7 linked regions of the Homo sapiens genome follow. The protein of the gene in region 1 purifies or fractionates together with the protein of each later gene. This does not show direct contact. Each region holds a gene or a part of one and is shown in the gene's direction. Other genes may lie near its edges.

What was found.
Region 2: the proteins of SF3A1 (region 1) and CCDC97 purify together in Homo sapiens (affinity purification with mass spectrometry; 3 studies listed by BioGRID and IntAct, with this or other methods). This does not show direct contact.
Region 3: the proteins of SF3A1 (region 1) and HNRNPU purify together in Homo sapiens (affinity purification with mass spectrometry; 3 studies listed by BioGRID and IntAct, with this or other methods). This does not show direct contact.
Region 4: the proteins of SF3A1 (region 1) and HNRNPC fractionate together in Homo sapiens (co-fractionation; 3 studies listed by BioGRID and IntAct, with this or other methods). This does not show direct contact.
Region 5: the proteins of SF3A1 (region 1) and SNW1 purify together in Homo sapiens (affinity purification with mass spectrometry; 3 studies listed by BioGRID and IntAct, with this or other methods). This does not show direct contact.
Region 6: the proteins of SF3A1 (region 1) and SART1 fractionate together in Homo sapiens (co-fractionation; 3 studies listed by BioGRID and IntAct, with this or other methods). This does not show direct contact.
Region 7: the proteins of SF3A1 (region 1) and DNAJC8 purify together in Homo sapiens (affinity purification with mass spectrometry; 4 studies listed by BioGRID and IntAct, with this or other methods). This does not show direct contact.

What each region holds. Positions count from the first base shown.
Region 1 is NC_000022.11:30,350,395-30,353,894, reverse strand, and holds part of SF3A1 (splicing factor 3A subunit 1), read left to right. Parts: intron 1-822; coding exon 823-944; intron 945-3,500. UniProt on the Homo sapiens protein: Component of the 17S U2 SnRNP complex of the spliceosome, a large ribonucleoprotein complex that removes introns from transcribed pre-mRNAs.
Region 2 is NC_000019.10:41,313,172-41,316,671, forward strand, and holds part of CCDC97 (coiled-coil domain-containing protein 97), read left to right. Parts: intron 1-3,212; coding exon 3,213-3,500. UniProt on the Homo sapiens protein: May play a role pre-mRNA splicing through the association with the splicing factor SF3B complex which is involved in branch-site recognition.
Region 3 is NC_000001.11:244,858,044-244,861,543, reverse strand, and holds part of HNRNPU (heterogeneous nuclear ribonucleoprotein U), read left to right. Parts: intron 1-1,069; coding exon 1,070-1,209; intron 1,210-2,169; coding exon 2,170-2,269; intron 2,270-2,702; coding exon 2,703-2,815; intron 2,816-3,269; coding exon 3,270-3,500. UniProt on the Homo sapiens protein: DNA- and RNA-binding protein involved in several cellular processes such as nuclear chromatin organization, telomere-length regulation, transcription, mRNA alternative splicing and stability, Xist-mediated transcriptional silencing and mitotic cell progression.
Region 4 is NC_000014.9:21,213,943-21,217,442, reverse strand, and holds part of HNRNPC (heterogeneous nuclear ribonucleoproteins C1/C2), read left to right. Parts: intron 1-3,500. UniProt on the Homo sapiens protein: Binds pre-mRNA and nucleates the assembly of 40S hnRNP particles. Interacts with poly-U tracts in the 3'-UTR or 5'-UTR of mRNA and modulates the stability and the level of translation of bound mRNA molecules. Single HNRNPC tetramers bind 230-240 nucleotides.
Region 5 is NC_000014.9:77,730,157-77,733,656, reverse strand, and holds part of SNW1 (SNW domain-containing protein 1), read left to right. Parts: intron 1-1,055; coding exon 1,056-1,172; intron 1,173-2,527; coding exon 2,528-2,669; intron 2,670-3,500. UniProt on the Homo sapiens protein: Involved in pre-mRNA splicing as component of the spliceosome. As a component of the minor spliceosome, involved in the splicing of U12-type introns in pre-mRNAs.
Region 6 is NC_000011.10:65,968,234-65,971,733, forward strand, and holds part of SART1 (U4/U6.U5 tri-snRNP-associated protein 1), read left to right. Parts: intron 1-3,500. UniProt on the Homo sapiens protein: Plays a role in mRNA splicing as a component of the U4/U6-U5 tri-snRNP, one of the building blocks of the spliceosome. May also bind to DNA.
Region 7 is NC_000001.11:28,212,530-28,216,029, reverse strand, and holds part of DNAJC8 (dnaJ homolog subfamily C member 8), read left to right. Parts: intron 1-1,033; coding exon 1,034-1,090; intron 1,091-3,500. UniProt on the Homo sapiens protein: Suppresses polyglutamine (polyQ) aggregation of ATXN3 in neuronal cells.

The sequences.
Region 1 (3,500 bases):
GGAACATGGTTTCTCAGAATGTAGTCGGAGTCCCTGCATCTGAATCACCTGGGCATTTGGTAATGTAGCAGGACGAGTCGCAGACAAAACTCCTCAGACACCGGATTAAAGAAGGAAGAGGTTTTTTATTCATCCGGGAGCGTCGGCAGACTCGTGTCTTAAGAGCCGAGCTCCCCGAAAAAGAAATTCCTAGCCCTTTAAAGGGCTTACAACTCTAAAGGTCTATGTGAAAGAGTCATAATAGATCAAGTAAGCGTGAGGAACGTGACTGGGGGCTACATACATCAGCTAACAGAACAAAAAGTTTTACAGTGCTTTCTCATACAATGTCTGGAATTTACAGATAACACCAGTAGTTTTGGTCAGGGGTTAATATTATTATTATTTTAACCACCAGGGCCAGGTGGTGGCACCAAGGTCGTCTAGCTATTTATCTTACTTCTGTTTCTTTCCAACTTTTTGCTTTCTCCCTTTTCTCCTGTCTTATAAACTAGGGAAAAGGGGAGGTTGGGGAGAAACTGGGAAGGACAACAGGAGAAGTGCTGGTCTCATACCATAGTAAAAATGCAGATTCCTGGTCTCACTGAGATAGTCCAGTGAGAGAGGAGCCAGGGAAGCTGCTCTTCTCCCTGGGTCCCCAGGAGCAGCCCCTGCAGGTGCAGTGAACTTAAGAGAACTGCTTTTCTGAAGTAGAGGGTTCTAACCTGAGGGAAGTCTGTGAATGAAAGTCTACTCTGAATGATATCCTAGAGGAGTTTTACAGTGGAGAACCTGCTCTGAACCAGGGACTTTAAAACCTTATTTCTTTTCCTGTTTGCACAGCCCACAGAAGAAGAAGCATCTTCAAAGGAGGATTCTGCACCTTCTAAGCCAGTTGTGGGGATTATTTACCCTCCTCCAGAGGTCAGAAATATTGTTGACAAGACTGCCAGCTTTGTGGCCAGGTAACAGAGCTACTTGGGTGGGTCAGAGGTGGGTTTCAGCATGAAGAGACTTCAGCACTGAATCAGCACAAGGGTTTTTAAAGAGACGTTGTTGGCTTGGGCCTTTTAGTTCATAAAAAACCACAACATGGCACTGGGGTAGGCAATAGGTAGGACTGGTGTCCCTGACACAGCATAGCAGTGGCCAAAGTGAGAATCACACTTAGCCCCACAGTCACCAGGAGCCTCTGCTTCTAAAACTGGCCTGAGGAAATGCCTGGAAAGCTGCTTCATCACAGATGGTGTGTGTCTGTGCCTGAGCTGCTGGCCTGAGGAAGATAAAAAGGGGAGTTTATTATTCTCATTGTACAAAGACCACATTCCAAGAGCCTCAAATGACCCATCTGCAAAATGGAAAAAATGCCATCTCAGAGTTGTTGTGAGGCGGGAGTGAGGTCATGGGGCTGCATGCAGTTCAGTTCCACGCGGGTGCTAGTCACCTCCTCAGATGGCATGGGCATTGCTCCGAGTTCCTCCTGTCTCTCCTCACAGTTCCATGCAGGTGCTAGCCGCCACCTCAGATAGAATGGGCATTGTTCCGAGTTCCTCCTGTCTCTCCCCACAGTTCTGTGCAGGTGCTAGCTGGCTTCTCAGATGGAATGGGCATTGGTCAGAGATCCTCTCTCTCCCCACAGTTCCATGCAGGTGCTAGCCGTCTCCTCAGATGGAATGGGTATTGCTCTGAGTTCCTCCTGTCTCTCCCCACAGTCCTGTGCAGGTGCTAGCTGGCTTCTCAGATGGAATGGGCATTGGTCAGAGATCCTCTCTCTTCCTACAGTTCCATGCAGGTGCTAGCCGCCACCTCAGATGGAATGGGAATTGCTCCGGGTTCCTCCTGTCTCTCCCCACAGTTCCACGCAGGTGCTAGCCGCCACCTCAGATGGAATGGGAATTGCTCCGAGTTCCCCCTGTCTCTCCCCACTGTACTTACCCTCACATCCTTAGATGGAATTTTTTTACTGGCCCCTTGACTCCAAAGGTCAGTACATTCTCTAGGGTATTTAAGGTATTCCTTTGGCAGCCCTCAGTCCATGTCCAGCCTACAGATGTTTTGTTTGTCCTCACAGTAATTTTTTCGAAACTCAAATTTGTTGCTACTATTTAAAAATGAGGAGGTCAGGTGCTGTGGCTCTTGCTTGTAATCCTAGCACTTTGGGAGCCCAAGGTGGGAAGATCACTTGAACTCAGGAATTTGAGACTAGCCTGGGCAACATAGTGAGACCCTGTCTACAAAAAATAAAAAGTTATCTGGCTGTGGTGGCATGGGCCTGTGATCCCAGCTACTTAGGAGGCTGAGGCAAGAGGATCGGTTGGGCCCAGAAGGTTGAAGCTATAGTGAGCCATGGACTCTAGCCTGGGTGACAGTGAGACCCTGTCTCAAAAAAAACAAAACAAGTAAAAATGAGATTTCACAATCAGTCTGGATTTCTGGACAGTTCCTTCATGTGTGGAAGCAGGCCCAATCAGCATGTGTTCTCCAGGGACCACGTCACCCCCCTGAGGCAGTGTCTCAGTCAGTATGCATCATTTAACGGATGGTCCTTCCTTTCCCAACCTAATAAAATTAGACATAAAGATTACTTTGGTTAGACTTTCTTTTTTTTTTTTTTAAATGACATGGAGTCTCACTCTGTTGCCAGGCTGGAGTGCAGTGGTGCAGTCTCAACTCACTGCAACCTCTGCCTCCTGGGTTCAAGTGATTCTCCTGCCTCAGCCTCCCGAGTAGCTGGGACAACAGGCGTGCGCCACCACGCCCAGGTAATTTTTGTATTTTTAGTAGAGACGTGGTTTCACCGTGTTGGCCAGGCTGGTCTCAGTCTCTTGACTTAATGATCCCCCGACCTGGGCCTCCCAAAGTGCTGGGATTACAGGCGTGAGCCACGGCACCAGCCTACTTTGGTTAGACTTTCACTATGTCAGCTCTGCAGATTCATCTCATTACATTTCAAGGGCTTTGATTACCTTTGAGTATTAGGTTGAAAGCTTCTCTGTGCTTGATTGAACATTGTGATGATGTTGATTGGGTCATGTCAGATTTAGACAGTGTTGTGTTTAAGATAAATGTTTAATGGCTCTTAGCAGTGTTCATGCCTCCCCTTTTCCCCTGATACTTTAAAAACAGAATATACAGAAAAGGGGAGTTGGGTGAAGAATCACCATATTCTCATTACCAGAGTAGTGTCTACCAGCTGTTTTCACATTTTTCTGTTTCCTTCTGTCCTTGGAATCCTTTTTTTAGATCCTTGTAATACTAGTAAAGATATTCCACTCTGTGTTGTAAGCATTTTTCCATTTTGCTCCATGGTCTTCATAATGCCCTGTGGTCCTTTATTAAGGGGATGCACCATGTAGAGGTGAAAGGCTTTCCTTGACTTGGCCACCATTTCTGTATTTTCCTTAGAGGAGGAGGTTTCCAACATTTCTTTTTTAGAGACAGAGTCTCGTTCTGACACGCAGGCAGGAGTGCAGTGGCATGATAACAGCTCACTGCAGCCTTGAACTCCTGGGCTCAAGTTA
Region 2 (3,500 bases), on another chromosome or scaffold:
TGTGCAGTGCTTTTTCCTGGACCCTCTTGTCATCCCTCTCCCACTCCCCTGTGCCCTCCCCAGTCCCTACCTCTCATTTCTCTTGGCTTTGGTTCTTGTCTTGATTCTGATGACACCCACAGCTCTGTCTCCAGCCCAACATTTCTCTCCTGAGGAGTCTGGAGGCCCGTGTAGCAGCAGTCGGACCATTCCCCTGGATGCCTCCCTTACTTCCAGCACGTCAGCCCTGTGGCTCCTCCACTCAGCCTCCTGACATCTTTCTGATTCGCTCACTCATGATCCTGTTCCTTCCTCCACAGCCCCTGCCCTTGTCCAGCTCAGTCTTCAGCTGCATCAGTGATTTAAATCCTCCCTGATACACACAACACATGTATGTCACCTGTGACTTCTTTCCTCCCCAACCCAGCCACGCTGCTTAAAGTTGTCTCTATATTCTGTTTTCACGTATTTCCTGCTTGCCGCAGGCTTGCTCCCTCCACTCTTGGGAAACAAGTCTCACCAAGGTTTGCCCAGCGCTCCGCTTTCCTGTTTTCTTTCCATTTTTTTGAGACAGAGTCTTCACTCTGTCACCCAGGCTGGAGTGCAATGGCTGATCTCGGCTCACTGCAACCTCTGCCTCATGGGTTCAAGCGATTCTTGTGCCTCTGCTTCCTGAGTAGCAGGGATTACAGGTGCCCACCACCATGCCCAGCTGATTTTTGTATTTTTAATAGAGAGAGGGTTTCACCATGTTGGCCAGGCTGGTCTTGAATTTGTGGCCTCAAGTGATCTGCCCACCTCGGCCTCCCAAAGTGCTGGATTACAGGCATGAGCCATGGTGCCCAGCCAGCTTTCCTGTTTTCTTTGCCCATATTATTGTTGATCCTGACTGTCTCCCACATCAGACTGGGTGCTCCCTGAGGGCAGGAGCTGGACTGGATTCATCCTATGGATCCTCAGCATTGCCTGACTTAGGGCCTCTCAGAGATTTAGTGTTTTTTTTTCTTTTTTTTTTTTTAGAGTTTTGCTCTTGTTGCCCAGACTGGAGTGCAATGGCACGATCTTGGCTCACCGCAACCTCTGCCTCCCAGGTTCAAGCTATTCTCCTGCCTCAGCCTCCCGAGTAGCTGGGATTACAGGCATGTGCCACAATGGCTGATTTTGTATTTTTAGTAGAGACGGGGTTTCTCCCAGTTGGTCAGGCTGGTCTTGAAATCCCGACCTCAGGTGATCCACCTGCCACAGCCTCCCAAAGTGCTGGGATTACAGGCGCAAGCCACCGCGCCCGGCCTAAGATTTAGAGTTATTAAAGAGTGGTTGGGTGAACGCATGAATGCATGAGAGAGTGAATGAATGAGTAAACAAATTAGCAAATGTATTAACGATTTAAAGAATTGAGTGGATCAATAAGTCAGGCCTCAGGGCCTTTGCAGTAGTTGTTGCCTCTGCCTGGAATTCTCTTTTCCAAGAGACCTCATGGCTTAATCCCTCACCACCTGAGGTCTCTAATCAAATGTCACTTTTTTGGCAAAGCCTTCTCTGAGCCTTCCATTTAAAATTGCAGCCTTGGCCAGGCATGGTGGTTTACACTGTAATCTCAGCACTTTGGAAGCCTGAGGCAGGAGGATCACTTGAGGCCAGGAGTTCAAGACCAGCCTGGGCAACACAGCAAGACCCTGTCTCTACCAAAAAAAATTAAAATTAGGCCGGGTCCAGTGGTGCACGCCTGTAATTCCAGCACTTTGGAAGATCGAGGTGGGAGGATTGCCTGAGCTCAAGAGATTGAGACCACCCTGGGCAACCTAGTGAGACCTTGTCTTTACTGAAACTTTTTTTTTTTTTTTTTAATTTAAAGATTGGCAGGGTGCAGGCCAGGCGCAGTGGCTCACGCCTGTAATCCCAGCACTTTGGGAGGCCGAGGCGGGTGGATCACGAGGTCAGGAGTTCGAGACCAGCACAGCCAAGATGGTGAAACCCTGTCTGTACTAAAAATACAAAAATTAGCCGGGCATGGTGGCAGGTACCTGTAATCCCAGCTGCTCGGGAGGCTGAGGCAGAGAATTGCTTGAACCTGAGGCGGAGGTTGCAGTGAATCAAGATTGCTCCACTGCACTCCAGCCTGGGCGAAAGAGCGAGACTCCGTCTCAAAAAAAAAAAAAAAAAAAAAAAGATTGGCAGGGTGCAGTGGCACACACCTGTAATCCCAGCACTTTGGGAGGCCGAAGGGGAGTGGATCACCTGAGGTCAGGAGTTGGAGACCAGCCTAGCCAACATAGCGAAACCCTGTCTCTACTAAAAATACAAAAATTAACCAGGCATTTGGCTTGTACCTGTAATCCCAGCTAGTTGGGAGGCTGAGGCACCAACCACAATAACTTGAACCCAGGAGGCGGCAGTTGCAGTGGGCAGATCTCACGCCATTGCACTCCAGCCTGGGCAACAAGAGCAAAACTCCATCTCAAAAAAAAAAAAGAAAAAAAAATTTAAAGATTAACTGAGTATGGTTGTGCATGCCTGTAGTCCTGGCTGCTCAGGAGGCTGAGGTGGGAGGATTGCTTGAGCCCAGGAGTTCAGGGTTACAGTGAACCATGGTTGTGCCATTGCACTCCAGCCTGGCAATGGAGCAAGGCCTTATCTCTTAAAAAATAAAAATAAAAATAGGCCAGTCACAGTGGCTTACACCTTTAATGCCCAGCACTTTGGGAGGCCAAGGCAGGAGGATTGCTGGAGCCCTGGAGTTCGAGACCAGCCTGAGTAACATGTCAATACCCTGTCTCTACAAAAAATTTAAAAATTACACAGGCATGGTGGTATATGCCTGTGGTCCTAGCTACACGGGAGGCTGAGATGGGAGGATCGCTCAAGCCCAGGCGGTCAAGGCTGCAGTGAGCTGTGATTGCGCCCTGCACTCCAGCCTGGGTGACCGAGCAAGACCCTGTCTCGAAAATAAAATAAAATTGCAGCCTCCTCCACCTCTTCCCTCCTCCTTCCCTGTTTATTTTTCCGCATAACTCCAGGAAACACCTAACACATTATGTTTTCGGTAATTATGTTGCTAATTGTTTGTGTCCCCTACTGAAATGTCAACTTTTGCTCACTGTGGTTTCTCTAGTGCCCAGAACAGTGCCCAGAATATAGTCAGTGCCCAGTAAATGTGAGCTGAGTGAGTGACTAAGCCCCCAGTCCCTTCCCACACTCCCATCTCTGAACTAACCAATCTCTCCTTTCCTCAGGCTGCATAGAGCCTGGACCTGGGCACTGGGGTGAGCTGAGCCGGACACCAGTCCCATCTAAACCCCAGGACAAAGTGGAAGCAGCTGAGGCAACACCAGTGGCCCTGGACAGTGACACCTCCGGGGCTGAAAATGCAGCAGTGAGTGCTATGCTGCACGCTGTAGCCGCCAGCCGCCTGCCTGTTTGCAGCCAGCAGCAGGGTGAACCCGACTTGACAGAGCATGAGAAAGTGGCCATCCTGGCCCAGCTGTACCACGAGAAGCCACTGGTGTTCCTGGAGCGCTTCC
Region 3 (3,500 bases), on another chromosome or scaffold:
TAAAACTCTTTCTTACTGGAATATCCTTTACAGAAGGTTGAGATAGTCATCTGAGCCTTTTTAAAAGAAAAAACTGCAGGTGAAAAAGGAGTTAGTTGATGTGAAAGTTTTAGTGAAATTCTGGGTTGTATAAATAAGTTGCTAGGAATTGGCAAGGTAGTGAAGTGGTGACTCACACAGGTAATGTAATTGTTAGATTTTTTAGCAAATCAGGAATATGTCAATATAAGTACAATGTTGAATTCAAACAATCTGTTGAATTAAATTCTGTTGATTAGAATAACTCTAATTTAAGAAAAATTCCAAACTGTAGATTTATTTTTCTCTGATCAGTAAAAAGAAAATGAGTTCCAGCTTGACTTTAGCTGTTCAAGTGAGAAGTCTGAGGAAGTGCATGTTAATGAGCCAGTGACCCATAGGTAGCTGGGTTAAAGACACTTTGGATTTGGATAATCCGGGAAGCAATTAATCCCTAATTGTTGAACAGGCAGTCCTGGGTAAAGAGGACCTAAAATGCTGCACTATTAACAGCATTAGACGGCCAGGTTTGTACTTCATAGTTTTAGGCTGTCTTCTTCACAAGTTTTAGAAAAAGAATTTAGGAGCTAGAGCCCTGGTGCAGGATCAACAGCAGCTCATACTCCTATTTTAAAATAATTTGGTCGTGGCCTCCCTTCAGTTTTAATGTGGCACTGGTAAATCTACCTGGTTCTGGCATGCTTCACTTTGATTTCCTGCTATCCTCTACTGCTTGCCTCTAAATCAAGGTAAAGAGCAGAGCAGGTATGTATTAATGTCACATTGTCTTGATTATTTTAAATACTTAAAATATACATGTTAAACCTTGGTATTAGTTTCACAGGCAGTTTACTTTTCAGTACATAATTTAACAGGAGTGACTTGGTGGGAGTGGGGCTTTAAACTGAAAATTGGAACAACAGCATGATGTGGAGAAAAGTTGTGCAGCATTAAGAAGTACATGCAAAAATTAAGTAACCAAGTTTTGTCTACATAGCAGATATGTTTACATTGGATGTCAAAAGTAACACAGTATTTGATATAATTACAGATAATTGTGATCTACATTTTAAAATATCAAGAGATCGTCTCAGTGCTTCTTCCCTTACAATGGAGAGTTTTGCTTTTCTTTGGGCTGGAGGAAGAGCATCCTATGGTGTGTCAAAAGGCAAAGTGTGTTTTGAGATGAAGGTAAATGCAATTTTATGATTTGTTTGTTTGTTTGTGGAGACAGTCTCACTCTGTTCCCTAGGCTGGATTGCCGTGGTGCGACCTAGGCTCACTGCAACCTCCGCGTCCTGGGTTCAAGCGATTCTCCTTGCTTCAGTCTCTCAAGTAGCTCGGACTAGAGGCACACACTACCACACCTGGCTAATTTTTGTATTTTTAATAGAGATGGGGTTTCACCACGTAGGCCAGGCTGGTCGCCAACTCTTGACCTCAGGTGATCCACTGTCTCGGCGTCCCAAAGTGCTGGGATTACAGGCATGAGCCACTGTGCCCAGCCTTTTTTTTTCCTTTTTAAAATAGTGACAAGGTCTCACCATGTTGCCCAGGCTGGTCTTGAACTCCTAAGCTCAAGTGATCTGCCCGCCTGAGCCTCTCAGAATGCTGGAATTACAGGTGCTTCATACTGCTAAGTTATCAAAGGTACTTATTTTTGAAGCTTCCTGTAAATTAAAAGAGGAGCTTGGAACCTTCATTTTGTTGTGACAGTTAATCACGGTTGTTATGTTAGAACTTGCCATGCAGAGCTAGGCGATTTTTTATTTAGGGTACTTCATTTTTATCAAGCATTTGAAAGGGCCACCAAAGAGTTAAAAATAAAATTTGGTTACATTACTGCTTTTGTTGGTGAGAAAAACATTAATTGTATCCTTTAATTGGCTTTAAGTTAAAGACTGACAACATGAACTTTAAAAATATTAAGTATTCTTTTAAATATGGGTCAAATAAGTATTTAACTCTTTAAATTTCAAGTTATAAGCACATCAGTTTAAAGTTCTTACAAATATTGGGGGTGGGCTAGAGTGTGCCTTCTTTGTATTTATAGCTAGAGGAAGATTAGCCCGTGGCGCAATGAAATATGCGAGAGTTAAGGGGTTACCTCCTTGGTGTATTATTTTAATTATTTAATGATTTGACTTTCAGGTTACAGAGAAGATCCCAGTAAGGCATTTATATACAAAAGATATTGACATACATGAAGTTCGTATTGGCTGGTCACTAACTACAAGTGGAATGTTACTTGGTAAAGCTTCTTTTTGACTGATGTGGGCTCATGAATGTTCAGGAGGGTCTGATTTCAGTGTTTTTTAACTAGAGGGCATTCTAAGCCTTTTGTCTGTTTTTATCTATTCTGTTAATACTTCAGACAGGTAATATTAGCACATAGTAGGCACAGGCTACATTTTAGTTTTTGTTCCTTTATTAGAAGTTTATGACCAATGGTTGAAATAAAATCTTACCCGTGATATGCAAATCGTCAACTAATTTGGTCTCTGCGTATATATCCCTCCTAACTTCCATCAATTCTGGTACAGAGATAGAAAAGTAATAGTGTCAGTGACAGGTGATTAGGTTATATGCTTATTTCTCTTGTAGCCTACATCTTAAGTAGTAAAATAGATGAGTCTTTGGACTATTTTAAACATCTACTTCATGAAGATTAATTATTTTCTTAGGTGAAGAAGAATTTTCTTATGGGTATTCTCTAAAAGGAATAAAAACATGCAACTGTGAGACTGAAGATTATGGAGAAAAGTTTGATGAAAATGATGTGATTACATGTTTTGCTGTAAGTTAAAGCTAACTTTCTATGTATAAATGGCAAAGTTAGTAGCTATATCTAGGAACTTTAAAGAAGCTTTACTGAGGTCAGTTTTCAATATGAGCAACAAAATACACCAGTCCCTGGATTAGTGTAAAGACTTCATTCAGCAGTTGAATTGGGAAAACACAGGACATTTTTGAGGAACTCACTAATTCATTTTGACTGAAAACAGTGAACATGAAATTGACCTAGAAAATTCAGTCTAGCTTCTAGGTCAGTATTGTTTCTGGTTCTGGAGATACGTGCTTCATGGTTTACAACCATCAGATTTCTTAACTGTGTAGCCCTTAAAGGCCACCTAATAGTTCTTTAACCTGTAGCTTCCACAGGATAAGCTTTGCTCCTAATTTTAATTCTTAGTTTTTTAGAAAGTTTAAGGAAGCAGATTTTAACTGTTGAATTTTTTTCTGTGTAACAGAACTTTGAAAGTGATGAAGTAGAACTCTCGTATGCTAAGAATGGACAAGATCTTGGCGTTGCCTTCAAAATCAGTAAGGAAGTTCTTGCTGGACGGCCACTGTTCCCGCATGTTCTCTGCCACAACTGTGCAGTTGAATTTAATTTTGGTCAGAAGGAAAAGCCATATTTTCCAATACCTGAAGAGTATACTTTCATCCAGAACGTCCCCTTAGAGGATCGAGTTAGAGGA
Region 4 (3,500 bases), on another chromosome or scaffold:
AGCTCCAGTGGTGAGCAAATGAGCATACTGGTTTACCATTTAGTCGTTTTATATTTTAAATGAGTGGTGCTTGCAGTTGATAGTATCCGGGTAAACTGATGCTAGACTAAGACAGCATGTTTGTGGTGAAGTACTTGCAAATAACATTAGAAATCATTGATTTCAGTTTAGAAATAAAACACAAGCTACAAAAATTTTGCTGGTTGATTTATTTTTAAGCACAAAATCAAGAATTCCAACTATGTTACGAACATTTTGAGGCAAGGACTACTTCCTCAGATGTGAATGAGAGTCCATTTCTGCCTGAGCAGCATTCTTTGTAACTAAAAGCCCCACCGGCTGAAATATTTTGAAATATTTTTCTTCAGAAAAGTAGAGAATTTGACTCCTAATTGTGTTCATGGGACTGTTAACATAGATTCAAAACAGAACTATTACTTGCTTCATTTTGGCTATGGTCAGATGAAATAGTAGGTTTTAAAAGGAAATTCCAGTGATAGTACGGAACTAGCTAGCTAGCTAGTTTAACGGATTTATTGTTTTCGGTCACAATTTGACATATTGTTATTTAAATTTTAATGTAAACCTGTGTTAAACTTTTTTATATCAGTTTTTTTATCTACATAGTTAAGTTTGAGGCAGATGTCTGTCATCAGTTGGTAGTTCATTTAACTAGTATTTACTGGAGATAGAATGGAAAAAACTGCTCCTTTGGTTCTCTTAATTTTTGTTTTGTGACGGAGTCTTACTCTGTGATCCATGCCGGAGTGCAGTGGTGGGATCTTGACTCATTATGAACTCCGCCTGTTAGGTTCAAGCGATTGTTGTCCCTCAGCCCCCGGAGTACCTGAGATTATAGGAATGTGCCACCACACCTGGATAATTTTTTCTATTTTTAGTAGACACTGGGTTTCACCATGTTGGTCAGGCCCGTCTCCATGTCCTGGCCTCAAATGAGCCGCTCGCCTTAGCCTCCCAAAGTGCTGGGATTACAGGTGTGAGCCACCCTGTCCGGCAAAACAGATTATTTCAATCTGTTCACATTTTTAAGATGAGAATCAGCTGTGGTCCATTAAATGGTCCATGTACCAAATGATAGCTTTATTATTAATAGATTAACGTCTACTCTGGTGTAGTGTTGACATGTATTACTAGGTTTTTTGAGACCCAGGAAATGTCACTGTTTGCAGCTAATGTCTTATGGTCAGAATTTCCATTTAAGAAGCTTCCCTTTGAAAACCTCTTCTTAGTACATGTCTTGTAATGCTTTTACTTTGGAATTGGGGTAGACATTCTTTGTCTTTTTTTTTTTTTTTTTTTTTGGTGGTGGAGGAGACAAAAGTTTTTACTCTGTCGCCCAGGCTGGAGTGCAATGGCTGTCTGCAACCCCCACTTCCTTCCTGGGTTCAAGCAACTCTCGTGCCTCAGCCTCCTGCGTAGCTGGGATTACAGGTGTGCCACTGCATCCAGCTGGTGTGTTTTGTTGTTTTTTTTTTCTTTTTCTTTTCCTTTTCTTTCTTTCTTCCTTTCTTTTTTTTTTTTTTAAGACGGAGTCTTGCTCTGTCACTGAGGCTGGAGTACAGTGGAATGATCTCAGCTCACTGCAACCTCTGCCTTCCAGATTCAAGCAATTCTTCTGCCTCAGCCCTCCTGAGTAGCTGGAATTACAGGCGTGTGCCACCATGCCCGGCTAATTTTTGTATTTTTAGTATACACGGGGTTTCCCCATGTTGGTCAGGCTGGTCTCAACTCGTAACCTCATGATCCACCTGCCTCCGCCTCCCAAAATGTTGGGATTACAGGCATGAGCCTCCACACCTGGCTGGTGTATTTTGTCTTAATCTGTTCAGGTGATTAATGTCTCTAGAGTGTTTTAATTTCTTAATCTGACTAGATTTTATACCAACACCATCAAGTTTGATTATGGGTGCAGTTACAATTCTCCTAGGGTTTAGTCCTTGTTCCCCTGGTAAAAGATTTTAAACAGCCTAGCCTTAATCAGTAAGTAATCAGCTATTGTTGCCTCATCTATTGTATAGCTTTCTCATAGTGAGAATTTCCGCTTAATTTTTAGCTGGTGCTTGAAGTAGTCATACTGAGCTTCTTAATATATATCCCTTTTAACTTAAAGGTTGTCACACTATGTATGTTTTTTTTCTATTTTCACACTTACCGTCCTCAACATTTTTCGAGGCAAGGACTACTTCCTCAGATGTGAATGAGAGTCCATTTCTGCCTGAGCAGCATTCTGTGTAACTAAAAGCCTTAACTGGCTGAAATATTTTGAAATATTTTTCTTCAGAAAAGTAGAGAATTTGACTCCTAATTGTGTTCATGAGACTGTTACATAGATTCAAAACAAAACTGTATTACTTGCTTTATTTTGGCTGTGGTCAGACGAAATAGTAGGTTTTAAAAAGAAATTCCAGTGATAGTACAGAACTAGCTAGCTAGCTCATTGGTTTAGATACGGGTGCCGGTGAAGGTTTGTGGCTTAGGAGGTAGATTAGATATTTATTTCCATTGGACTGAGGCTTAAGCTCAGTTTAATGCTCATGGATATGGATAACTTATTTTGATTCACCTCCAGAAATTGTCGTTAAGCAATTTGTGTTTGTGCAAGTGTTACCATCTCTCACAAAGGATATGAGTTTCTGAACACTGATATTTTATAGTTTCTGTATCATTATACTTTGCAAGATTTTGGTCAAAAAGACCAAAAGCTTTATGTCAAAATGGGAAAGTAGTGATAATAAAAAGTTACTCAGTATCTTTTTCTTTGCATTAATTCCCATGAATGGATTAAACTAAGAGATTAACCATACTTAGGGGAAATGCAAACTTTTTTCTGTTTTCTTTTTTTTTGAGACAGTGTTGCTCTGTTCCGCATGAGTGCAGTGGTGCAGTCATGGTTCTCTCACCTCCTGGGCTCAACCTGTCTTTCCATCTCAGCTTTCCTTGCTCTTTTAATTTAGGAAAATGTTCCTGTCCATAGCCACTCCTGGGACAAGATTAAACATTGCTTTGTTGAAATAGTGTGGAAACACTTTTAAGTTAACAGAGGAGAGAATTAGCAATGAGATCTTGTAAATGTTTTCACTACAGGAAGATTGGAGATATTACAACTCAGAATAACTTGCCACTATTGTATATATATAAGAGGGAGAATCATGACAAAGGTGATTAATAATATTTTTAAAGTTCTTGACTATCACATTTGTTTTTTAAGAAATATTTGGAGTTAGAACAGTTGGTAGGTGTATTTTTATAGAGTACCTGGGCCTTTGCATTAAGTTAGTTGCATTTTTAAAAAGCTTGCAGAATTGAAGACCTTTTCATACGTTGCCATAGGTTCTTATATGGAAATGACAATGTGGAATGTAGAAAGTTTAGAACTGATGTCCATGTAAGAAGTATTTTGTTCTGTTTTGAATTTTCTCTTTACAAATGTAAGTGTACCAAGCCACTGCTTTGGTGTATCTTTATCAATCACTGGGATA
Region 5 (3,500 bases), on another chromosome or scaffold:
CCTCCCACCTCAGCCTCCCGAGTAGTTGGGACCACAAGTGTGCCCCACCATGCCTGGCTACTTTTTTGTATTTTTGGTAGAGACGGGGTTTCACCATGTTGCCAGGCTGGTCTTGAACTCCTGGGCTCAAGCAATCCACCTGCCTTGGCCTCCCAAAGTGTTGGGATTACAGGCTTGAGCTACTGCACCCAGCCTTTTTTTTCTATTTACTAAAACTTCAGGATTCTAAGAATATAACAGATCATTAAGACAGTACAGCAGATTTAACTTCCTATAGATGCTAAGATTATAGTGATTCTACCTTTGTTTGACTGTTAAATTTACTTGAGGAGCAACTGTTGAACTGTTTGACAGTGATTTCCTTTTATTAAAATCGACAATTATTAACACAAATATCTATTTTTCCAGAGCTTGGGTTCTGAAATCCTGCTGAGTTTAAATCCTAATCGCCCACTTACTAACTGTATGACCTTGGGGATGTTACCAAAGCATCAGTGAAATGGACACAATAATGTTAGAAGCTTTATAGAGTTATCGTGAAGGTTAAATGAGACCATAGGTGTAAGTGCTTGATCTTCTACATAAAGCACTCATTGATAGCTGCTGTTGTTTTGCATCATTGTGAAGAAAGATGCAAGGAAAAAGAACCTCCAGTTAAGTGGTTCTCAAAATGTGGGCATATTTAAATTTAATTTTAGCCAGGCTCGATGGCTCATGCCTGTAATCCCAGCACTTTGGGAGGCCAAGGGCGGATCACTCAAGGTCAGGAATTCAAAACCATCCTGGCCAACATGGTGAAACTCCGTCTCTACTAAAAATAGAAAAACTAGCCGAGTGTGTGGCGCACGCCTATGGTCCCAGCTACTCGGGAGGCTGAGGTAGGAGACTCGCTTGAACCCAGGAGGCAGAGGTTGCAGTGAGCCGAGATGGCACCCCTGCCCTCCAGCCAGGGTGACAGAGCAAGACTCCAGCTCGAAAAAAATAAAATTAATTTAACTTCAGACGATTAATTGAAGCACTTCTGTGACTGGGTTTTCTGTCTGCTTTCACTCTAGGGTTATACAATTCCATTAGACAAACGTCTGGCTGCTGATGGAAGAGGACTACAGACAGTACACATAAATGAAAATTTCGCCAAATTGGCAGAAGCCCTCTACATTGCTGATCGGAAGGTTGGTTTGTTATAATTTGTTTAATGCTCTTGTTACTTTTAAAATCCATTCTTGGTTACCTAAGGTACTGATAATTTAACTATAGTACCGAGCACCCAAAGAGAGTCTCACCCATGGTACGTGTGTCAGAAATGGCAGCTGCTAGTTGGCAGCTCTCTGCATGCTCCCAGCTTTTGTAGATGTGTACATACACCCCACAGTGGTGATCCGGCTCCCTCACAACATGTCAGAATAATGGTTTCCTAGGATGATCCCATTTTTTGAAGATTGCTAGGTTTCATAATTTTTGATTTCAAATTTTCCTCTATTTTAGATGTAGATGTCCCCCAAAAGGGCAGTTGCAGGAAAAGGCAGATAAACATTCTAATGAATTGAATAGTACATAAAATGGCGTTCATAGCATTGGCCATCTATTAATGTTACATAATGTATTAAATATTATGGAATTAGGCTGGGCACAATGGCTCATGTGTATAATCCCAGCATTTTGGGAGGCCAAGACTGGTGGATTCCTTGAGGTTGAGAGTTCAAGACCAGCCTGACCAATGTGGTGAAACTCCATCTCTACTAAAAATACAAACATTAGCTGGATGTGGCATGCACCTGTAATCCTAGCTACTTGGGAGGCTGAGGCAGGAGAATCTCTCGAACCCAGGAGGTGGAGGTTGCAGTGAGCCAAGAACGCACCACTGCACTTCAGCCTGGGCAGCAGAGTAAGACACTTCATCTCAAAAAATATATGTAAATATAAATATTATGGAATTAATATGTGATATTGAAGTTCACATGCATCATAGCATGTGTTTGGAACATAAAAAAAATGTCTTTTGTATCACAGTGAGTACCCTTATAAAAATTATCTAGCAGATGTAAGTTAAGATTTTATCTTGAGTTGACTTGATTAACTTTGAAAGTGTTATTAATTTTGAAAATGTTATTTTTTTGAGATGGATCTCACTATGTTGCCTAGGCTGGTCCCAAGCTCCTGAGCTCAAGCAGTCCTTCCACCCTGGCCTCCCAAAGTGCTAGGATTGCAGGAGAGAGCCACTATGCCTGGCTTTAATTTTGTTCTTTAGATTGTTTCTGAGAAAGCATTAGTGAAATACTTGACTTACAAGATTAATTGGGGTCACGATAGTTTCAATCACTAAAATATTCCCAGAGAAAAAAGCTGACCTTGCAGTGTCTTCCAGGCAGGATATCTTTTAGTGGACAAGACTCTTTGTTTTAATTAGCAATAACAAATCTGAATTCTGTATAATTGCTCTTACCAGCCAGATGTTAGGGAGTTGGATGATAGCCATAAATATTTATCCCATGATAGTGTCCTGTTTAACATGTGACTTTACCAACAGGCTCGTGAAGCTGTGGAAATGCGTGCCCAAGTAGAGAGAAAAATGGCTCAGAAAGAAAAGGAAAAACATGAAGAGAAACTTAGAGAAATGGCCCAGAAAGCCAGGGAGAGAAGAGCTGGGATCAAAACTCATGTGGAAAAAGGTATGACATTCTCATTACTGAATTGAATTTTGCTTGGTGAACAAAATATATCTTATTTTAGAAAATCTTTTTCCTACTGCATATAAAGTAGGTACATATAAACAAAATTTAGATACATCAGATATAGTGTAGAAATGGAGAGTAATCTCTGCCTTAGTAAGCTGAAGCAACAGGAGATAAGAAAAAAGTGGGTCTTCAGTTTGGGACTGTACCAGAAATTTTTAAACTTCTGAGCAGTGTACTTTTCAAAATTGCATTATTACTCAAATGATAGGCTTGATTTTCTCTTATCTTAATCTCAAAACTTAAGAGAAATTAGGTATCTAACAGAATAATTCAGCTCCCTCATATGGTGAAGTAATCCAGAGTTTTTCTATCTTGTAGGCTCCAATGCATTTCTCATCATTAAATCTGCCAGTATTTTCTCTCTGACTTTACTTAGTGGTCTACATTGGTGTATTAATTCAATTAGAGTGGGAAGTCGAGTCCTAAGTATAATTCAAGAAATTTTGTGAGGGTGGTTATTTTTTTTTCATTACTAAATTCTTACCTGGTACATTTATTCATTCTTTCATTTATTTAGTTCATATTGAGCATCTGCTGTGTGCAAGGTTCTCTTTTAGACACAAAGTGTTTTTGCTAGACAGTGGGTAGGGGGATGGGATATAACAGTCAACATTCTGGTGAGTGTAGACAGACAGAAATTAATCATGTAGTATAGTAAAAGGTAATAATTGCTGTGGAGGAAAAATAATACAGGGAAAGAGGATATAAAATTGCCAGAAGGTGAGAGTGGTCAAATAGCCCTCACTTCTGAGATGGTGCTGTTAG
Region 6 (3,500 bases), on another chromosome or scaffold:
CACCGTGCCCAGCCCTCTATTCTGTTTAAAGTCATGTTTTGCAAAAATTTTTAGATGCCTGCTTTAGTAGGGGATCCTTTCCTTGCCTCTCTCTTCTGTGCATGTTTGTTGAATGCCTGCTGTGAGTAGTGCATTGTTCTTGGGCTGAGAAGGTCATTGGTGAACAGGATAGCCATGGGGCCCTGGGCTCATGGAGCTGGCTTTCTAGAGTGTGTGGGGGAGAGCGTGGGGAGCAGCAGTGACTGTTAATGCAGGAACGGTAATTTCTGATGGTGGTGGGAGCTGGGCACTCAGTAAACCAAGATAACGTGCCGGGGGTTGGGATCTTAGATGGGAGAGTGCAGGGAAGACCTTTCCAAGGTACTAGTTCATCTGAGACTTGAGTCACACAGAGGAGCCAGCCTTGCGGGGGGTTAGGGGTGGCAGCAGGTGGACAGGCTGGCATTTAGGCAGTAGACCAACCAGCAGGTGTCTCAGGAGAAGTGACCTTAGAGTGCCTGAGGGCCAGGGAGGCTGGAGCAGAGCAGAGAGTGAGGGGTGGCGTGAGCTGAGATGGAGAGGTAGGGGGCCAACGCAGGGGGAGCCTTGACCCCATGGTCGTCGCTGCCCCAGAGGCACAGTGGGCCGGGCACTGCTCACATGTTCTGTGTTTGTTGATTCATTCCATCCTCCCAGCAACACCCTATGAGGAAGGTTCTGTCATCTCCATCATTCCAGAGGCCACACTTTTAGCCCTACCCCACACTTCTCACCTAGGAAGAAGCCAAGAAAGCGTGTCCAGGAGAGGGAGCAAGGGAGGGAAGCTTCTGATACTACTGGGAGGCAAAGTGGGGACAGTTGCAGTGGATTCAGGACCCGGAGGACAGGGGAGTTGAAAAAGTGAGGGCTGAACCCGGGACGGAGGCCAGGCTTACTGTTGAAGGGCTGGAGAGGACGTATTTGAGGTTTAAGGGCATATGGTCTCTGTTAGGCACCTTGAATGCTGTGCTGTTATAGGGAAAACAGCCAAGACAGTCTGTAAGTGAGTGGGCGTGGCTGGGTTCCAGTAATACTTTATTTCTAAGAACAGGTGTTGGGACATAGTTTGCCCGGCTAAAAAGGAACAGAGAAATGGAGCAATAGGCTGACAGGGCTGTTTTATGACTGAAATGAACATAAGGGTTTCTAGCCCCGTGGATCTCAGCCTGCCTGCACATTAGACTCACCTAGGAGGTTGTTTTTGTTGTTGTTTTAAGAAACAAGGTCTCGCTCGGTTGCCCAGGCTGGAGTGCAGTAGTGCAATCATAGTTCACTGCAGCCTTGAACTCCTGGGCTCAAGGGATCCTCCTGCCTCAGGCTCTCAAGTAGCTGAGACTACAGGCGTGCGCCTGTGGGTCTCAGTGTGTTGCCCGGGCTGGTCTCAAATTCCTGAGCTCAAACGATCCTCTCGCCTCCACCTCCCAAAGTGCTGGGGTTACAGGCATGAGCCACCAGGCCTGGTGTAGCCTAGAAAGTTTTTGTTGTTGTTTGAGACGGAGTCTCGCTCTGTCACCAGGCTGGAGTGCAGTGGCGCGATCTCGGCTCACTGCAACCTCCATGTCCCGGGCTCAAGCAATTCTCCTGCCTCAGCCTCCTGAGTAGCTGGAACTACAGGTGCATGCCACCACGCCCAGCTGATTTTTGTATTTTTTAGAAGAAACAGGGTTTCACCGTGTTGGTCAGGCTGGTCTCAAACTCCTCACCTTGTGATCCACCCTCCTCAGCCTCCCAAAGTGCTGGAATTAGAGGCATGAACCACCACACCCGGCCACCTAGAAGGTTTTTTAAACATATGAGCCACACCCCACACACTGTGCAGGCAAAAAAGTGGAAAGCCTATCACAGTGAACACCTTTGTCCTCTAGAGTCAGTAATTATAAACATTGTTACAGTTCTTTTCTTTCTCTTCTTTTTTTCCTGACCACTGGGAGTTGCAGATATCATGACACTGCATCCTTAACGACTTCAGTAGGCATCTGGCGAAATCAGGGCCTTCTCCCGCATAGCCACACTGCCCTAACAAGCCCATAAATGCTGTAAAACAGCAGCTCGCATGCCAACATTTTCCAGTTATCCCCCAAAATGTCTTTTTAGTTTTTTGTTGTAAGCAGCATCCAATCAAGTTTCCCACCCGCAAAGGAGCCTTTTCTGACTACCGGAGATTCTAGAGTATGTGGGAGACACATTTATGACGGAAGAAGAAAAAGATCTCGGCAGGCGGTGCTGGGGCCTAGAGTGCAAGTGGAGGGTGGGCTTGAGTGAAGCCAGCTCGTGTCATCATTTATTTCAGGAGGGAAGGTGGGGAGGGCACAGCAGCTGTGGGTGACCTTGTTTAGGGGAAGTCAAGGCAGCCCATGGCCGATTGTTCTGGTGTTTTTCCAGTGAAGAGGTGGCAGAGGTGGTGGTGCAAAGAGATGGGAGATGCTGTTCTGGAGAGTGGAGAGCAGATACACCCTGGGAGAAGAGCAGGCCTGCCAGTGGCAGTGTGGATGGTGGGATTCATGAGCTGAGGAGGGGGATGGTGGAATTCATGAGCTGCTGAGGGAGGGGGATGGTGGGATTCATGAGCTGAGGAGGGGGATGGTGGGATTCATGAGCTGAGGAGGGGGATGGTGGGATTCATGAGCTGCTGAGGAGGGGGATGGTGGGATTCAGGAGCTGAGGAGGGGGATGGTGGGATTCATGAGCTGAGGAGGGGGATGGTGGGATTCATGAGCTGAGGAGGGGGATGGTGGGATTCATGAGCTGCTGAGGAGGGGGATGGTGGGATTCATGAGGTGCTGAGGAGGGGGGTGGTGGGATTCAGGAGCTGAGGAGGGGGATGGTGGGATTCATGAGCTGAGGAGGGGGATGGTGGGATTCATGAGCTGCTGAGGAGGGGGATGGGATTCATGAGCTGCTGAGGAGGGGGATGGTGGGATTCAGAAGCTGAGGAGGGGGATGGTGGGATTCATGAGCTGCTGAGGAGGGGGATGGTGGGATTCATGAGCTGAGGAGGGGGATGGTGGGATTCATGAGCTGAGGAGGGGGATGGTGGGATTCATGAGCTGCTGAGGAGGGGGATGGTGGGATTCAGGAGCTGCTGAGGAGGGGGATGGTGGGATTCATGAGCTGAGGAGGGGGATGGTGGGATTCATGAGCTGCTGAGGAGGGGGATGGTGGGATTCATGAGCTGCTGAGGAGGGGGATGGTGGGATTCATGAGCTGCTGAGGAGGGGGATGGTGGGATTCATGAGCTGAGGAGGGGGATGGTGGGATTCATGAGCTGAGGAGGGGGATGGTGGGATTCATGAGCTGAGGAGGGGGATGGTGGGATTCATGAGCTGCTGAAGAGGGGGATGGTGGGATTCAGGAGCTGCTGAGGAGGGGGATGGTGGGATTCAGGAGCTGAGGAGGGGGATGGTGGGATTAATGCCCTGAAGCAGTGGATGGTGGGATTGAGGATTGGGTTTTCTAGGGAGGAGGGACAAGGCAGTTAAGGG
Region 7 (3,500 bases), on another chromosome or scaffold:
CCAGGCATGGTTGTGCGCTCCACATACTTACAGTCCTAGTTGCTCAAGAGGCTGAGACCAGAGGACCACTTGAGCCCCAGAGCTTGAGGCTGCAGTGACCTATGATTATGCCACTGCACTCCAGCCTGGGCAACAAAGTGAGACACTGTCTCGAAAAAAAAAAAAATTATTTGTTTAAAGAAGTGTTGCTTAAGGCTGGGCGCGGTGGCTCACACCTGTAATCCCAGCACTTTGGGAGGCTGAGGCAGGCGGATCACCTGAAGTCTGGAGTTTGAGACCAGCCTGACCAACATGGAGAAACCCTGTGTCTACTAAAATTACAAAATTAGCCAGGTGTGGTGGCACGTGCCTGTAATCCCAGCTACTCAGGAGGCTTAGGCAGGAAAATCGCTTGAACCGCGGAGGTGGAGGTTGCAGTGAGCCGAGATCTCGCCATTGCACTCCAGCCTGGGCAATAAGAGCGAGACTCCATCTCAAAAAAAAAAAAAATAGAGTTGTTCCTCCTATTGGCCCTACCCCTGCTCTATGGGGTTGGAATCAGACTTTCGTAGAGTGGGCCAGCCATTGCTCACAGGTTTCCACAGGTGATTCTAATATTCACTCTGATTGAGAACCACTGGGCCTTGTAAATTATAAAGTGTCCATTGGGCTATTTTTTTCTTTTTTGAGTTATTACGGTTTCTCGACATTTGCAAAAATAAAGGGAGGGGGAGTTAAACTCTTTTAATGAATGAAGGAGAAATGCAAAATTTTCTCATGTAAAAATGTCTCTGGGTGTAAAATAAATTATTATTTTTATGATGAAAATAAGCATTATGTTATTTGAGTACCATAAGACAATATAATTGTTATTCTGTTGATTTGATCATTCATATTTCTTTAGCAATTTCTAGAACTGTGTGCCAGCCTGTGTTCTAGAACATGGGGTACTATTCTAGATGCTGATTATAATATATATAATTACTGAGCAACTCTTAAATATACATGTAATTTATTTTCACCTTTTTTATGGTTTTGATTTTGATACTTCCAGGTTCTTCAGATAGATCCTGAAGTTACAGATGAAGAAATAAAAAAGAGGTTTCGGCAGGTACAGTACTATTTCCCTGTTTGAACTTTTTGAAAATGTATGAAGCACATGATTCTTTTATCACTTGCTATTATTGACTTGATATGTTTGGGCCAAAATTTAACTTTTTTTTAAGGCTGTGTAACTGTTTTGTAAAAAAAAGCTCATAATAATATATAAAATCTTAAATAATTTAATGACCATAGCTTACCTATGAATAGAATGAATTTTATATCCAAATAGAATCTCTGCAACTCCTTAATTAAGAGGGATAAGTATAAAGTAGAATAATAGAGCTTGCATGGAGTTGTAACTACCAAACCCCCTGTCTTCTAGGAGGGAACATATCAAATGATTCATAGCACATTTTTATCTTTAAGACTCCATTTGTCTGTAATTTTATCTTTTATTTTTATTCTTATTTTTCGAGACAGAGTCTTGCTTTGTCGCCCACGCTGGAGTGTAGTGGCATGATCTCAGGTCACTGCAACCTCCACCTCCTGGGTTCAAGCAGTTCTCCTGCCTCAGCCTCCCAGGTAGCTGGTATTACAAGTGCATGCCACCACACCCGGCTAATTTTTGTATTTTGGTAGAGACAGAGTTTCCCTATGTTGGCCAGGCTGGTGACGAACTCCTGACCTCAAGTGATCTACCTGCTTCAGCCTCCCCAAAATGCAGGAATTACCGGTGTGAGCCACTGCACCCGGCCGTAATTTTATCTTTTGCCAACTTAAATGAATACCTAAGAGATAACTGGTATAAAGAGTGCTTTTTGAAAGTTCTCCAGGAAAGGAGATCTATAGCTTCTGAATCTTGCCCATTCGTAGGTTTAATAACTGGAACTACAAAGTTTTAAAGTAAACTTAAAAAAAAAATCCTTCCAGTTTTGACAGCTGAGTAACCCTCCCCCCAGCCTTTTTTTCTTAAAAATTATTATTATTTTTTGAGACAGGGTCTCACTCTGTCACCTAGGCTGGAGTACAGTGGTGTGATCTTGGCTCACTGCAACCTGTGCCTCCTGAGTTTAAGCAATCCTCCCTCCTCAACCTCCCCAGTAGCTGGGACTACAGGTGTGCATCACCATGCTCAGATAATTTTTGTATTTTTTGTAGAGACAGAGTTTCGCCATGTTGCCCAGGCTGGTCTCAATTCTGGGCTCAAGCGATCTGCTGGCCTCAGCCTCTCAAAGTGCCATGATTACAGGCATGAGCCACCGTGCCTGGCTACCTTTTTTTCTGAGTTGAATAATCGTAGTCCCTATAATTTGCCTTTGCAAATTGGATTTTCTATATATTCCATGTCTTTTAAAAAAACTTTCCTTAGCTTCTTTATAGTCTTATGTACTTCATATTTTAATAGGGTCTGACCAGAGCTGAATGTAATTTTCAGCTTCTGATGAGATACTTGTTAATATCCAGTGGTGTGCTTGTTTCTTCAGTACAGTAATTTTCCCCATATTGCTGACTCATAGTCATTTTCTGATCTACAGTTAAGCCAAGATGTTTTTTAACTTGGTCTACGTAATCATATCCCATTATATAACTTTATAGCTTTTTTTTTTCCTTCCTAAGCTCTACTCTATACTTATATTTAGCTTTTTCCTTTTTCTAAAATTTCAAATTTTCTAATATGCATTACTAATCATTCCCATATTAATAAGCATTTAAGTTCATAGTCAAAACAATTTTTTATGTAGCTACATAAATAATAAGAGTTAAGAATTCTTAATAAATCATTAATATGGACTGATAGTTAAGAGTGTGCATATTGGAGCTATACAACTAGTTTAAATCTTGACTGTACCACTTAACAAGCAGTGTAAACTTGAGCAAGTTACATTTAACCTTTCCGTGTCTGTTACCCCGTTTGTAAAATGTAATAATGGTGTCTATCCCATGAGTTTGTTGTAAGAATTTAAATGATGTATTACACAGAAGGCATTTAGAGTAACTCTTGGCACATAATGTATCCTCACTATATGCTAACTATTGTCAGCGTGTGTTAGTCTGCTAATTTCTTTACTTGCATTGTTTGTTTCATTCTTATATCAGCCCAATTAGATATAGGTACATAGTATTATCTCATTTACAGAGCAGGAAGCGGAGGCAGAGATAGGTTAAGTGATTTGCTCGAGGTCTCATAGCTAGTAGGTGATTGAAGTTGGAATTAGAACCCAGCATAATGGTTCCAGTAATGCTGAACGGAGCGTTAGATTCCCATTTGTTCTCATTCCCCGACATAGTTCCCTGGGTTCCAACTAGTTGGTTTCTGTCAATTGACAATATGTCATGGTTTTTAACTGTGAGTATCTGAATTACCTATGAAAGTTCTTTTTTTTTTAGCTGGTTTATTATAAAAATTTTATATAGAAAAAAGAATGGACAAGCATAGTGGCTCATGCCTGTAATCCTAGTATTTTGGGACATTGAGT